Linked DNA regions of Homo sapiens: region 1 is linked to region 2. A link means that fine-mapping ties the variant in region 2 to the expression of a gene that starts in the linked region. Tissue or cell type: whole blood. Region 2 holds a variant in brackets; the other region holds the start of a gene. All regions are shown on one strand. Distances are between the middles of the regions.

Region 1 (2,500 bases), 80 kb before region 2:
CCCACCCAGCTCAACTATGGAAACACAGGCTGTAAATTTTTATAGCCCAAATCCTAGTGTCCACCACTTTCTGTGCTCTAGTCCCACTAGCTGCTCTTGGCCCTGCCACTCCTGGCTCCCCGGCCTTAGTGAGTTTGGGAAACATCCCTCCAGTTCAACCTTGGCACCTTCCCTTGGACACACATTAGGTATTATTTCTCCTTCAGCTGAAGGCTTTGTAGCTATTGAAAGGCAAGGCATCTCTTGATGTGAGCCTTGAAGGACAGGTTGCTTTGGGTAGGCAGAGAGAAGCTGGTAAGGCGTATATTGTCTAAGGGTCTGGAGGTGGGGTATAAGGGGTATACAAGTCATAGAGTTGGGGATAGGCAGAACCCAGAGAGGGGAGAAAACTGGCCTGAGATAGAAGACCTTGCAAGGGAGAAGGAGGGTAGGAGCCTGGATGGTGTGAAATGCTAGAGGTGCATGGCTGGAATGGAGGGGGTGGGGCACCAGGCTTCAGATGCTTCTGGGTGCAGATGCAGATTTTCAGGATGTACAACATGGAGCATCCCCAAGGCAACTGTGTTGAGAGCCTGCGAGGCAGGTGAATGTGGATCTTCTACCCCCTCTCCTGACTGAGTTCACCAAGGAACAAGCTTTGTAAACTATTTGAGGGTAGGGGCTGTGATTATTTACTCTCATATCCTCAGAGCCTGGTGTTGAGGTTGGTGCTTTGTAGGCACCCAGGGACTTTCAAATGAATGAAGGGAGGGAGGGAGGAAAGAAGGATGGGTCCATAGTAGGACCTGGTGATGGGCTGGGAGCTCCAGGCAAATGTCAACCAATCCCTCTCCTGGGTCAGCTCCCAGGGGCTCACCCTTCTTTGCATTTCCAGCTCTCATGAGGTCATTGTGCACAGGAAAGCTCTCTCCTCTAATCTCCTCTGATCCTACTGCACCAGAGAAATCAAGCCAGAATTCAATAAAGTCTCAGTCCAGATAAACAAGACAAAAGAAATAAGATTCGAGTAGAAGATCTCCTTCAAGGGAAAGTTGCTGTGTTTGTCCAAGACCTTTGTCCCATCCATGTATCATCCCCCAAGTAAACACTTCTTGTTCACCTGTTCATTAGATTTCAAGTGCAGTCCCTGGCCTGTAAGTCCCTACAATGATAAGCTTCTCTTATCATTGCACATTCTTCATCAGGAGGATGCCAGAGGAGCTCAGCCAACAGTTCCTCATCAGTAGCAGATTCTTCAGAATCTTGGGCACTACACAGATGCCCTTGAGCTCTTTGAATAAAGGCTGATTTTTAGAAAAAACATTAAGACAGAACTTAAAAACAATAGATTGACTATAATCCAAAGACGAGTGTACCTCTAACCACAATTTTCATTTATTTTTAAATGTTTCCTTCATGGCCTTTCTTGTGGCTCACCCTATGCAGTTTGTGTATTTGTTGACAACTTTATGTGTTTTTAATATGGTTTTTGCCAAACTTGGTTTTTCCGAGACCGTCTTTTCTCAGAGGCTCAGTTTTACCGTCCTATCTGCAGTCGGCTACTTTCAGTGGCAGAAGAGGCCACATCTGCTTCCTGTAGGCCCTCTGGGCAGAAGCATGCGCTGGTGTCTCCTCCTGATCTGGGCCCAGGGGCTGAGGCAGGCTCCCCTCGCCTCAGGTAAGGCCTGAAACCCAGCAGAGCAGCAGGGAGGAAAAACAAGGCTAAGCTTGGTTGGAGACTTGGGTGCTTGTGTAGGGAAGACTCCAAGAGCATGCCACAGCTGCTTGAGAGAAAGAAATTGCAACTTTTAGAGTCCTGTGTACTCTTATTTAAGAAAGGACAATCTCTGAGAATGAGGTGGGGTTCTGTTTTTGGTGGCAGATGAAGGACTTTGCAGACTTCCGGGGTTGGAGGAGCCTGACTGGCCAGCACAAGAAGGAGCAGGAGAAGAAGAAGGGCTGGGCAGGAGGCATTGCCAGTTTGCTTTTAGAAGCTCATTCCTGCTCCAGCTTCTTTTCTGTTGCCTTTCAGGAACTTTCCAGGAAAACATTATAAGTTCTCTGTGAATTGAAAATGTCTTTTTCACAGATTCCAGAGGTTCTACCACTAGAGACTGATTTTTTGTTAAATTTATTTCTTCTATATTAAAAATCAGAGTCAAATATTTCTGAGGGAGGGGAACACAAATATTTAAAAACTGTGGTATAAATTAGTTTTTATGTTGCCTTCTGAACTATCTGAGGATGGAGATGTGCCCAGGGTTGCTGGGGAGAGGTTAAGTGCTGAGAGGGTGGTTATGCCTGGGAGAAGCAGGGTTTCCTGCTAAGCTTCCTTTGCTATTGGATTTCTTGGCTTTCCTGAAGGTTTTTTCAGGCACTGCAAATGACAATCAACCAAACAGCAAGGTTTTATTTCAAAGGATAATGCATCCAGCATAGAACTAGGCCGCAGGAAGAAACATAAAAACAAAACAAAATAAAAACAGAAGAGGTGGTATCAGCTGACAAGGGCTTATATTCT
Region 2 (2,759 bases):
ATGTGAGAAGTCTTGACAGATATGGAGAAGCACTAATTTTATATAATGAAATCTGCCATGAACAGAGGAAGCACACATGAAACTGTCACTAGCAGCTGTAGATAAGAATTAAAGATGTATTCCTGCATGGGATGAGATGGCAAGATGAAGAACAGAACCGTGAAAATCAGCATTGGGCCCTAACAATTACATGTGGATAATCATATCTATGCACTGTTTGGGAGAGCAATATGACACAGTGTAACTTGAGCCAATGGGCATTGAGACCAGACTTGCCAAGGGACCTGGGAGGATTTTATAAGAGGACAGACTGTTAGAGTCGGGAAGGGCCACAAATCCATGACAAAGTTCCAGCATGACACCTGTAGGTGACTCTGGCTCCATGAATGAACTTTTCTCAACAATTAGTTATTCTGAGCCAGGTGTGGTGGCTCATGCCTGTAATCCCAGCACTTTGGGAGGCCGAGGCAGACGGATTGCTTGAGCTCAGGATTCGAGACCAGCCTGGGCAACATGATCAAATCTCACCTCTAAAATACAAACAAACAAAAAACCCCCCAAAAAACTAGCTGGCTGTGGTGGCACAAGTCTATGTTCCCAGCTACTCAGGAGGCTGGGTGGGAGGATTGCTTGAGCCCAGGAGGCAGAGGTGGCAGTGAGCTGAGATTGCACTGCTGTACTCCAGCCTGGGCAACAGAGCCAGACCCTGTTTAAACAAAAAAGAAAAATAAAAAGAAAATTTATTTTGTGATTTACTGATCAAAATCATCACTAGGTCCTTCAGAATACTTTCTTTTTTTTTCCTGAGATGCAGTCTTGCTCTGTCACTAGGCTAGAGTGCAGTGGTGCAATCTCGGCTCACTGCAACCTCCGCCTCCTGGGTTCAAGCGATTCTCCTACCTCAGCCTCCCAAGTAGCTGGGACTAGAGGCACGTGCCACCATGCCCAGCTAATTTTTCTATTTTTAGTAGAGACAGGGTTTCACCATTTGGCCAGGATGGTCTCGATCTCTTGACCTCATGATCTGGCCGCCTTGGTCTCCCAAAGTGCGGGGATTACAGGCGTGAGCCACTGCGCCTTGCCCCCTCAGAATACTTTCTTACTTTGACTGGCTGTGTGGAAGGAAGGGTTCTTTTGCCTATTAGAAAATAAGTAGATGTCTTGCTTTATTATATATTTGGAAAGCAAATGTCTCTGAAATGGATATAGGATTCAGCTCAGCTGAATTATAACAATAGACAATGTTACCCAAATACAAATCTTCCCATGATTAAAATGAGGCAAAGTATAAGAAGGCCTCAGTGTCATAACTGAACTGTTCTGTTTTCTGAAAACTCTGCGCTCTGTTTGTGCCTCTATGGTTTTGCTTCTTTCTATTC[C/T]TTCTGCCTGGAATGCCATTACTTCTGCCTTCTACTTTACAAATGCCCACTCCTTTATGATCCAGTTTAATTTCATTTTTGGTGTGGAGCTCTTTCCACTTCAAGAGGCTCTTTCCTCGGGGGCTCTGTAGCATTTTGTGCATACTGGAACACTTTAATTCTGCATTTATATTTACCCCGTTATGTTCCAAAGTGTGGGGATGGGGTCTTATTCCTATCTTCGTCCCTAATCTTAGCTGAGGACTTGGTGCAGAATGAGGGATCTGATAACATTTGATCAATGACTGAATTAATGACTAAATGAATGAATGAATAAGAACGACTACCAGAAATTACTGCATTAAGTGACTATGGAAGAAACCCAGTTAAATTGGTGTTGTAGGGAAATAATAAGTTTTATAAAAAGAGGGCCAATTTAAAAAATAGAGGTAGATTAAGATACAAAGTTTCAAGACCTGTGCTTTTTTAAAATAAGTGTGTCCCCAAATGCACAAAGTGGAAACTCTAGGAAATTAGAGCAAATAAAAAAAACGAACTGGCCTTCCAATGTATAAGTGCTGGACTAAGCACTAAAATCTCTAAATAAAGGGTATAAAAGGTAACGAAAAAATTCCAAAGAGATTATATATCAATTAACTAAGAGGCAGAAAGGTGACTTTTTAAAACGGGAAAGACTATCTTTAATGACAGGAAATCCACATTTAACAGATGAGGGGCTTACTTGGCAATGAAATGACAGAAAAACAGTTTAAATGAAAAGATAAATATATAATTCCTTACAGAACATAGAATAAAGCAGAATGCAGAACACTGGGGGCAACGAGAGCACTTAGTTGTACCAAAGACACTCTATTACTGCTTAACTGATACGGAATTTATTAGAAAATTAATAACAAGCCATTGGATAGTAACTGTCTGTGGTTGTTATTCCATTCCATTTTGGCTATATTTTCTCTGCAAATTAGTGTGACCCTAAAATGTTTTCAGGATTGTCCAACTTGTCCTAAATTCCATAAATAAACTCTTTCAGAGGATGCTGTTTTTTGCCATGTCTCTATTACGGTTCTTCACAGATGGACCATTTTTGTCCTTCCAAAGTCTAAGAATAACTCTTTCAGTTATCAAGACATACCAAAATCCAGTTCAGCTGCTCCTGTGGGATTCCAGTTAGTTTAGACACATCTGCTGAGATACATGCATTTGAATCCAAATGAAGCTTTTGTTTGATTATACATTTTGAACATTTATGGAGGTTTTCTGGGGCCAAAATGTTTTTCATTTTTTGGCACACCAAACAGAGATCTTCAGTTATAAACACTGCCTTCTGAGCACCTCCAACAGAAATCCAATCTTTTCATGTGAACAGGTGCCTCAGGAAGT

The links. PIP is the estimated chance that this variant, and not a neighbour inherited with it, causes the effect.
Region 1: it holds the start of TIGIT, and the variant in region 2 is fine-mapped to the expression of TIGIT in whole blood (TOPMed, PIP above 0.99).

The regions. Positions count from the first base shown.
Region 1 is chr3:114,292,466-114,294,965 of GRCh38, forward strand. TIGIT (T cell immunoreceptor with Ig and ITIM domains) reads left to right here and starts at 1,563. Exons shown (of 4, transcript NM_173799.4): 1 at 1,563-1,657. The coding sequence starts at 1,597.
Region 2 is chr3:114,372,131-114,374,889 of GRCh38, forward strand. The region is part of intron 10 of ZBTB20 (zinc finger and BTB domain containing 20); the gene reads right to left. All of the region lies in intron 6 of ZBTB20-AS1 (ZBTB20 antisense RNA 1), which reads left to right. Among named protein-coding and RNA genes, the nearest start is that of ZBTB20-AS1, 22 kb to the left of the region's middle. The variant C/T (reference allele first, on the strand shown) is at 1,380.